Linked DNA regions of Homo sapiens: region 2 is linked to region 1. The links come from fine-mapping of genetic effects on gene expression. Tissue or cell type: naive CD8 T cells. Region 1 holds a variant in brackets; the other region holds the start of a gene. All regions are shown on one strand. Distances are between the middles of the regions. Region 1 overlaps ACACB (acetyl-CoA carboxylase beta). Region 2 holds the start of ACACB (acetyl-CoA carboxylase beta).

Region 1 (5,377 bases):
CGCCCAGGCTGGAGTGCAGTGGTGCGATCTCGGCTCACTGCAAGCTCTGCCTCCCGGGTTCACGCCATTCTCCTTCCTCAGTCTCCCAAGTAGCTGGGACTACAGGTGCCTGCCACCATGCCTGGCTAAATTTTTTTGTATTTTTAGTAGAGATGGGGTTTCACCATGTTAGCCAGGATAGTCTTGATCTCCTGACCTCGTGATCCACCTGCTTCAGCCTCCCAAAGTGCTGGGATTACAGGCATGAGCCACCATGCCTGGCCTGAAGAGATCATTCTTTCTCCATTGGATGGTCTTGATATCCATGTCAAAAATAGATTGACCATAGATGTATAGGTTTCTATTCCATTGATCTATATGTCTATCTTATGCCAAATACCATGCTGTTTTGTTTACCATAGCTTTGTAGTAAGTTTTTAAATTGGGAAATGTGAATCTTCAAACATATTTTTTAAGATTGTTTTGGCTGATTGGGGCCTCTTGAAATTCCATATAAATCTGTATATTCCTTTGGATAATATGGACATCTTAACAATAAGTCTTCCAATCCATGAGCAAGGTATGTCTTTCCATTTATTTAATTCTTCTTTAATTTCTTTTAGTAATGTTTTGTAGTTTTCAGTGTGCAGGTCTTTCACTTCTTTGGTTAAATTTATTCCTAGGTAGGAAACAAGTGTGATAGGCAATAATAGAAAAAGGAAACATTGAAATTAAACATATTTATTTCTAGGTGTTTTATTCTTTTGAATGCTATTATAAATGGAATTGTTTTCTTAATTTCTTTTTCAGATTATTTACCACTGGTGTATAGAAACACAACTATTTTTGTGTATTTATCTTGTATCCTGCAACTTTGCTTAATTATTTTTATTACCTCTACAATACCAAGGTTTTCTGTGTGTGTATTATCTGGCACTTTCTACATATAGGACCATGTAATCTGTGAATAGGGGTGGCTTTACTTCTTCCTTCCTAATCTCTATGTCTTTTATTTCATTTTATTGTCTAATTGGTTTGTCTAGAACTTCCAGTACAGTGTTGAATAGCACTGGTGAAAGTGGGCATCCTTGTCTTATTCCTGGTTAAAGCTATCAGCCTTTCCCCATTTAGTATGATGTTAGCTGTGGATTTTTCATAAATGTACTTTATTAAGTTGCAGTTCCCTTCTGTTCCTAATTTTCTGAATGTTGTTATCATGAAAGGGTGTTGGATTTTGTCAAATGCTTTTCCTGCATCAATTGGGATGATCATGTGGTTTTTTTCCCTTTGTTCCATTAATGTGGCATGTTACATTGACATTGAGCCACCCTTGACTGACTTTTCTTTAAAAAAAACACATGATGATCTTGAAAGGAAAAAACCCCTCTGACCCTGTGTACTACCTAGAAAATAGCCTTGGCAACATATCAGCAAATTCTGCTGCTGAAAGTGTGTAAGAAGTACTTGGATTGTTTAGTTCTGGGAAATATTGAGAACTTTTCCACTTCCTTTAAAAACATTGTGTTGAAATTTAAAAAGAAAAAGCTTTATGGCAGGGCACAGTGTCTCACGCCTGTAATCCTAGCACTTTGGGAGGCAGAGGTGGGCGGATCACTTGAGGTCAGGAGTTAGACACCAGCCTAGCCAACATGGTGAAACCCCATCTTTACAAAAAATACAAAAATTAGCCGGGCATGGTGGGGGGCACCTGTAATCCCAGCTACTAGGGAGGCTGAGGCTCAAGAATCTCTTGAACCCAGGAGGCAGAGGTTGCAGTGAGCTGAGATTACGCCACTATGCTCCCACCTGGGCGACAGGGTCAGATTCTGACTCAAAAAAAAAAAAAGGATTTTTAGATACCAAATTGACCTGCTGAGCTTTGTGGTCCACTTTTGTAATGCTTCTAGTATATAATTGTGGCAAAATTGGTTCAGAAATTTCAACACATAGAGAGAGGTCCCATTTAAAAATTTTTTTTGAAATAGGGTCTCACTCTGTTGTCCAGGCTGGAGTGCAGTGGTGCCATCTTAGCTCATTTCAACCTCTGCCTCCTGGGCTTTTCTTTTCTTTTT[C/CT]TTTTTTTTTTTGTTTTTGAGACCAAGTCTCACTCTGTTGCCCGGGCTGGAATGCAGTTGCATGATCTCAGCTCACTGCAACCTCCACCTCCAGGTTCAAGTGATTCTCATGCCTCAGACTCCCGAGTAGCTGGAATTACAGGCACCCACCTCCATGCCCAGCTAATTTTTGTATTTTTATTTTTAGTACAGACAGGGCTTCACCATGTTGGCCAGGCTGGTCTCAAACTCCCAACCTCAGGTGATCTGCCCGCCTCAGCCTCCCAAAGTGCTGGGATTACAGGCATGAGCCACCGCACTGGGCTCATTTTTAAAACAAGATTTCCTTCAAATAACAATGATCTACTCATTAGTAGGGCAGAGTTAGGGTGATAGAAAGAGGTGTGGCTTAGAGATTGGAATACCTGGGTTCATTCTTTCAATACACACTTGTAAGCCCTCATTGCATACCAGGCACTGGTCTAGACCCTGCAACAGAAAACAGTCTCCCGAGGCTTGTTGGGCTTCTATGCTAGTTGTAAGCATACCCCACACTGGGGATGATGGCGCCCTTCCTCCCTCCAGGGCCATGATGGTGACTGACTATATGATAATAATACTAGAATGATGATGATGATGACAGAAGCAACAATTCCCTTTCATTTATAAAGTGGAATATAATTAAGAGTCTTTAAAAAAAAAAAATAACAGCTTTGGCTGGGCGCGGTGGGTCACGTCTGTAATCCTAGCACTTTGGGAAGCCAAGGTCAGGAGTTAGAGAGCAACCTGGTCAACATGGTGAAATTCTGTCTCCACAAAAATACAAAAATTAGCTAGGCATGGTGGTGCATGCCTGTAGCCCAAGCTACTCAGGAGGCTGAGGCAGAATTGCTTGAACCCAGGAGGCGGAGTTTGCAGTGAGCAGAGATTGCGGCACTGCACTCCAGCCTGGGCAACAAAGGGAGACTGCATCTCAAAACAAAAAAACAAAAAAACCCCAGCTTTATTGAGAGATAATTCACATGGCATACAATCCACTCATGTAAAGGACAAGTCAATGTTTTTTAACTGTATTCACAGAGCTGTACAACCATCACCTCAATCTGCTTTAGAACATTTTCATCATCCCAAACAGAAACCCTACACTCTGTAGCCATCATCCCCATCCCACTAGGTCCTGGCAACCACTAATCTGTTTTCTGTCTCTCAAGATTGGCCTGTTCTGCACACTTCATATACTTGGAATCGTATAATATGTGACCTTTTGTGATTGGCTTCTTTAACTTAGCAGTTTTCAAGGTTCTTCCTTGAACCTTGGCAGGAAACTAAGATCCAGAGGGGTGAAGGAATATGTCCAAGCCTGTTTCAGGCAGAGCAGGGAGGAGAACCCCATCTCTCCCCTCGTCCAGTATTTCAGGAATACACAGCACCCCAACAGCCTCCTGCCCCACTAGCTTCTTTAGGAGAGAAATCACTTGATTATGTAAATCCTAAAATGTCTCTCCTTTTCTCCTTACAGATTTTCTGAATGGTCTTGCTTCTTTGTCTATCTTGTCTGATTTTCTCCTGTCTGACCTTTTCCTGGTTAAAAATCTGGGGGAAAATGACGGACTCCAAGCCGATCACCAAGAGTAAATCAGAAGCAAACCTCATCCCGAGCCAGGAGCCCTTTCCAGCCTCTGATAACTCAGGGGAGACACCGCAGAGAAATGGGGAGGGCCACACTCTGCCCAAGACACCCAGCCAGGCCGAGCCAGCCTCCCACAAAGGCCCCAAAGATGCCGGTCGGCGGAGAAACTCCCTACCACCCTCCCACCAGAAGCCCCCAAGAAACCCCCTTTCTTCCAGTGACGCAGCACCCTCCCCAGAGCTTCAAGCCAACGGGACTGGGACACAAGGTCTGGAGGCCACAGATACCAATGGCCTGTCCTCCTCAGCCAGGCCCCAGGGCCAGCAAGCTGGCTCCCCCTCCAAAGAAGACAAGAAGCAGGCAAACATCAAGAGGCAGCTGATGACCAACTTCATCCTGGGCTCTTTTGATGACTACTCCTCCGACGAGGACTCTGTTGCTGGCTCATCTCGTGAGTCTACCCGGAAGGGCAGCCGGGCCAGCTTGGGGGCCCTGTCCCTGGAGGCTTATCTGACCACAGGTGAAGCTGAGACCCGCGTCCCCACTATGAGGTAATGTGCATTTTCTCCTTGTAACTGAGGAGTGCAGAGTTCAGGTGGGGTCCACACCCTTCCCAACCTGTGCCCACCTTGATCAAGCTGTTTGCTGATGCCAAAGCTTCAAGGGTGGCTATGCACAAAAGGAGAAGACACGAGCCTTCTCAGAAGTTTCCTTCCTTCCTTCCTTCCTTCCTTCCTTCCTTCCTTCCATCCTTCCTTCCTTCTTTCCTTCCTTCCTTCCTTCCTTCCTTCCTTCCTTCCTTCCTTCCTTCCTTCCTTCCTTCCTTCCTTCCTTCCTTCCTTCCCTCCTTTCAAAATCATTCCTTGAGGCTGGGCACAGTGGCTCATGCCTGTAATCCCAGCACTTTGGGAGGCCAAGGCAGGCAGATCACTTGAGGTCGGGAGTTTAAGACTAGCCTGGCCAACATGGTGAAACTCCGTTTCTACTAAAAATACAAAAATTCACCAGGCATGCAGGCGTGTGCCTGTAATCCCAGCTGCTTGGAAGGCTGAGGCGGGAGAATCTCTTGAACCCAGGAAGTGGAGGTTGCAGTGAGCTGAGATCACGTCACTGCACTCCAGCCTGGGTGACAGGGCGAGACCTTGTCTCAAAAAAGGAAAAAAGGAAAGAAATCATTCCTTGTGCATCTACTGCATGCACAGGGCTCGATGCCATGAAACTGACTTTCTAGAAGACCTCAGCCTAGTTGGGGAAGATGACCTTGTGTTTAGTTATAATTTAAGCTGAATGAGCCAAGGCTGGCAAGAGCCACAAGTGATGATGGTAGTCTAGAGGGAGGGGCAGTTCTCTCTGCCTCCTGAAGAGACATTGATTCATTCATTCTTTTTTTTTTTTTTTTTTTTTTTTGAGACAGGGTCTTACTCTGTCACTCTGTTAGCTGAGTGTACTGGTAGGATCATAGCTCACTACAACCTCAAACTCCCGGGCTCAAGCAATCCTCCCACCTCAGTGCACTCCTGGGTAGCTGGGACTACAGGTGTGCACCACCACACCTAGCTAATTTTTAAATTTTTTATAGAAATGGGAATCTCACCATATTGCCCAGGCTGGTCTCCAACTCCTGGACTCAAGCGATCCTCGGTCTCCCAAAGTGCTGGGATTACAGGCATGAGCCACCACACCCAGCCCATTCATTCATTCATTCATTCAGCAGGTA
Region 2 (5,377 bases), 22 kb before region 1:
AGCTGAGGAAAGCTAGAACATTCCTCTGCTGGAGATGGCCTCCTTGTTTAGAGTCCTTCTGACACTGTAATTTGGGTCTGACAACAGGAAGTTCCTTTGTAGTTTAAGTCAATGGGAACCAATTTTTTTTTCTTTTTTTTGCGATAGAGTCTCACTCTGTTTCTTAAGATGGAGTACAGTGACTCAGTCATGGCTCACTGCAGCCTCAACTTCCTGGGTTCAGGTGATCCTCCTGCCTCAGCCTCCTGAGCAGCTGGGACCACTGGTATGCACCACCATACCTGGCTAAGTTTTTAATAGAAATGGGGTCTTGCTAAGTTGCCCAGGCTAGGGAACCAGTTTTTAAGTTTTTGAAATATGCTTGGAAATATAAATATTGGTGAGCGGAGCAGACCAGGAGATCAATAATTTATGTTCTCTGCTTGTTAGTTGTGTATATAGCATGTTCTTTTGTCTCTCTTAATGATGTTTGGGGTGAGGGTGTGGGAGAGGAAGGTAGGGAGCCTTCCAACAAGAAGCTAGTGCTCCTCCAGCCTAGAGAAGCTAAAACATGCAAAGCCAGACCCCATCCCTGGAAATTCTGATTTAATTGGTGGGGGAAGGCATGTGAATTCTCACAGAGGGTCCGGTTTGCAGCAGGACTGGTGATTTCTTTCCAGGTGCCTTGTTTTGTTAGACCATGTGGTCACTTAATAATTTTTTTTGGGCCAGGTACAGTGGCTCATACCTGTAATCCCAGTGCTTTAGGAGGCAAGGCAAGAAGATCGCTTTAGGCCAGGAGTTCAAGACCAACTTGGGCAACATAATGAGACCTTGTCTTTAAAAAAAAAAAATTTTTTTTTTTTTAATTAGCCAGGGGTGGTGTGTGCCTGTAGTTCTAGCTACTTGGGAAGCTGAGGCAGGAGGATCATTTGAGCCCAGGAGTTCGAGGCTGCAGTGAGCTATGATCATGCCACTGCACTCCATCCAGCCTGGGCAACAGAGCAAGATCCTATTTCTAAAACAAAACAAAACAAAACAAAAAATGTAACTTGATACCTGTGACTTTCTGAAACTAACAGCTGTTTGAAGAAATATATTTCTATTACCGTTCTTGTGTTTGATGGAAAGAGTTTATGAATAACTTTGGTTTCAAGCCTTCCAATTATATTCTGGAAAATACCTGTGTCTTAAAGAGATAGTGTCTAGGGAGAACTGAATCACTGCAGAGTTCTTCACCTGTATGTGTGGGTATGTCTAGTCTTTTTGCAAGTAATGAATTTCATTAGAAAGATATTAAGTGCTTGTCATGAGCAAGCCCCTGTGCCAGAAACTCAATATAAATCATTTCATTTTCTCACCCATATGGTGAAGTAGTTGATGAGGACACTGAAGCTCAGCCATTTGCTCAAAGTCATGGCTAATGGAGGGAGGATTCAAACCCACATCAGCTTGATTTCAAAGCCTAATAGTCCTGCCACTGTCAACACCCTGCCTAGATCATGATTATTTGGAATCACTGGGAAAGAATTTTTTTTTCATGAAGTTAGAAGCCTAAGAATTTTTTTCAATGGAATTTTATAAAAATGTCCTTGAATCACAGATGGCTCTCCCTGGAAACATAGGTTTGTTTGAGAGTCACCTCTTTTATTGTCTTAATAAATAGACTAAGAGCCATCACAAGGGCTACTGTGGCTAGAGAACATATGACTCGGGCCGGGCATTGTGCAGGCATTTGACCTGCATTCCTTCACCCCGGTTCCTGTAACATGTACCTGGTGCTGTGGGGTTACAGCTGATAATGCTGAGGTTTCCAGAGCACATGCTTCCAAGTCCAGTGGAGAAAATCCCAAGAAGTCCAATATTCAATGACTGTTCCTTATTGCAAAATAAGCCCAGAAACAAAGTAGCTGTGAACAGGCTGCACCAGCCCCAGCAGCAATTTCCATTTAAACCATTTTGCACAGATCCCGTGCTCAGCGCTCTCGCCAGTTTCTCCACTTGCTGTTTAGTAAGGCCATCATTGTTGGCAGGAAGTGGGTTCCACCTTCCCTGTTGCCTGAGCACAATGTGCTCCTATGTGGTCTCCACTTTCCTGCTGCCTAGTTGGCTGGGCTTCTCCAGCTGGGCCTTGGAGGCGACCTTTGTCCCACATGCCAGCCCTCCCCACGTTGCAGAACACTATGTAACTGCAGCGTGTGCTGAATTTCCTCTTCTGTGCTCAACCCTAGCAAGAGCCAGTCAACCCTGAATGAGAATGTGGCAATGGAGCTGTTTTTTTCTTTTATCCCCAAGTCACAAGAAATTGGAAACATTCCATTAAGTGGCGTGATTTGAGAGGGTTTCGCCAAATCTTTTCAGGGGAGAGAAGCCAGGTGACCTGATAGCGATCACCTTCCCATTCACGGTTTTCAATGGGGGCTTGTTTCTCAAATGACCAACACCTGTAGGCAGTTAATTTTCAGCATGTCACAGGAGGGCCCAGATGACTTTCTGCCTACTGCTTACGACAACATGGACTTTAGATGCCTCATGGCTTCAACAGCTAAGAATTATGAAATAAAGCGAGTTATGGGATTAAAAGGCAGATAGCAGAACTCTCCCAGGAGTAGCCAGGGCTGCACAAGTGGTTTGACGTGGGATCTTTCTCATCTTTGCCCCGGGTTGTTGCTGCTTTGAAGGTTAAGTGCTCCAGGGATATTTTTAAACAGCAGGGGCTGATTAATCTAAAAGTGACATTTGCAGTCCCCAGAGTAAGCAGCTAGCAGGCTTAGATTCAGGCCCTCAGCAAACAAGGAACCTGGAAAATGTAACCCTGAATGCACGGTGGGGAGGACATGGCAAGAGAAAAGCGGCAGGAATAAAGTGGTAAGTCAGCTCGCCCCTCCCCGGGGTCCGGACCATTCTGCCAACGTCCAGGTAAATTCGAACCCAATGTATAGTGAGAGCAGACCCTGTCTGAAGGCATGCACTTGGGGTCCCCGGGGAAAAACGACTCCCGTCATGTTTGAAGGAAGCTAATCAGAAGAGCTCGAAATGTAACGCAGATGAAAGAGAAGGGCCTTTCTTTGCTTCTATAAATGGTGGTGTGGATCCCTGGACATGCTCCCATATAAGTTCCACAACGTTTTATAAACAATTCTGTTTTTTGCCTCCAAAGCTACTGTCTTAAGGAATAGTATTCTGTTTCTGTTTCCTCAAATGGTTGTTCTTTTTTTTTTTTTTTTTTTTTTTAAAGCAGACTAAGGCTGGGCACGGTGGCTCATGCCACCCAGCACCTTGGGAGGCAGAGGCAGGTGGATCACTTGAGGTCAGGAGTTCGAGACCAGCCTGGCCAACATGGCGAAACCCCATCTGTACTAAACACATAAAAATTAGCCAGATGTGGTGATGGGCACCTGTAATCCCAGCTACTTGGGAGGCTGAGGCAGGAGAATCGCTTGAACCCAGGAGGTGGGGGTTGCAGTGAGCTAAAATTGCGCCACTGCATTCCAGCCTGACTGACAGAGCAAGACTCTGTCTCAAAAAAAAAAAAAAAGAAAAGAAAAAGAAAAAAAGGAGACTAAGAGTAAAGCGTTTGTAGTGGTCCTATATCCTATATTTCTAGGAAGACATGACTTTCTTTCAATGTTGAAAAAATGCATTCCAAAATAATATGCAAGTTAAAAAGTCACTCAGCACCGTGCAAAAGTCTCCTTGCTGTTATTCCTGTCTAACCCTCCTCCTCCAGGTAGCCACTGTGCACATTTTGGTATAAACCCCCCAGACCTTTTATTCTGTACACTCACACTGTACACAACTCTCTCCCTCATGTCTATTGTGATTACTTTTATTTTTTAATATCAATGGGCATCCATATAGGTTGGGTGACCAACCATCCCACTTTGCCCAGGACCGGGGAATTCCCGGGACATGGGACTTGCAATTTAAAAACTGAAAGGTGAAGATATTATTATTATCATTATTATTTGAGATGGAGTGCTCACTGCAAGCTCCGCCTCCTGGGTTCACGCCATTCTCCTGCCTCAGCCTCCCAAGTAGCTGGGACTACAGGCACCCACTACCACGCCCGGCTAATTTTTTTTGTATTTTTAGTAGAGACAGGGTTTCACTGTGTTAGCCAGGATGGTCTCGATCTCCTGACCTCAAGTGATCCGCCCGCCTCGGCCTCCCAGAGTGCTGGGATTACAGGCATGAGCCACCGCGCCTGGCCAAAGATATCATTTTATAAATTGCATGTTTCTGCTAATAGTGACATGGAGTTCTTTACAAGATTTCTTTTTATGACTTCTCCAAGTTTTAAGTGGAAAGACCCAGCCAATCCTAATTCATGTGATTTAGAGATGAAAATATCTCTAATCTGTAACTTTCTTTCAGAAGCTCTTAAGAGTTTTATTTGCTCCTGCTCAGGTGTTGTGTAAACTCGCTCATACTTTCAACACCTTTAGGTCTGAGACAGAAATTTGAGTATTACATTACATGAGATACCCAGTCTTCATGGGGAAATAAACATTTTAATCTTTTGAAATGGAGGTTTCCTTGAAGTCTTATCCCAGTAGAAACTTTGACCTTGTTCTTTTTTTTTTTTTTTTTTTGAGACAGAGTCTCGTCCTGTCACCCAGGCTGGAGTGCGATGGCACAATCTCAGCTCACTGCAACCCCTGCCTCCCAGGTTCAAGCAATTCCTCAGTCTCAGTCTCCCGAGTAGCTGGGATTGCAGGCAAGCACTACCACGCCCAGCTAATTTTTGTATTTTTAGTAGAGATGGGGTTTTGCCATGTTGGCCAGGCTGGTCTCGAACTCCTGACCTCAAGTGATCTGCTCACCTTGGCCTCCCAAAGTGCTGGGATTACGGGCATGAGCCACTGCACCCGGCCTGGAATACCTTGTTCTCATGCTTCCTCTGAATTTGTGATTCAGTGACTTGTTACTTCAAAGTAGAGTTCACCTGTACCCAGGGAAACCAGGAAACAGAGTTAGAAATATTGCATTTGATCGGAAAAATGTATGCACATTTCACATCCTATCCTAATAGATCTCTCTGTTTGCAGTGATAATAGTAAATTTATGACCGTAGAGTAAGGTGATTTTCTAGGAAGATAGACCGTGTTCATTTATTCCAGGAATCCAGGGATCCTTGTATCAGAGAATCCAGGCTGGGCACAGCAGAGAAACCAAGGTATTGATTATTGGGTAGTTGGCATACCCCAGGTATGCCATAATAATTATGGGATCTCACATAATTTTGAGGACAATCCTAGGAAGGAGATTTTATTTATTCCATTCCACAGGCCAGGAAACCAAGGTTCAGAGAATTTCCATGATGGGCTCAGGCCAATCAGATAACAAATGGCAAAGCCTCCACCCAAGTCTGCTGTACTCCAGAAGTCCTGCTCTC

The links.
Region 2: it holds the start of ACACB, and the variant in region 1 is fine-mapped to the expression of ACACB in naive CD8 T cells (Schmiedel 2018, PIP 0.93).

The regions. Positions count from the first base shown.
Region 1 is chr12:109,135,848-109,141,224 of GRCh38, forward strand. It overlaps ACACB (acetyl-CoA carboxylase beta), which reads left to right. Exons shown (of 53, transcript NM_001093.4): 2 at 3,550-4,211. The coding sequence starts at 3,559. Among named protein-coding and RNA genes, the nearest start is that of ACACB, 22 kb to the left of the region's middle. The variant C/CT (reference allele first, on the strand shown) is at 2,052.
Region 2 is chr12:109,113,858-109,119,234 of GRCh38, forward strand. ACACB (acetyl-CoA carboxylase beta) reads left to right here and starts at 2,730. Exons shown (of 53, transcript NM_001093.4): 1 at 2,730-2,847. It overlaps LOC105369974 (a long non-coding RNA gene), which reads right to left. Exons shown (of 3, transcript XR_945332.3): 3 at 4,797-4,927.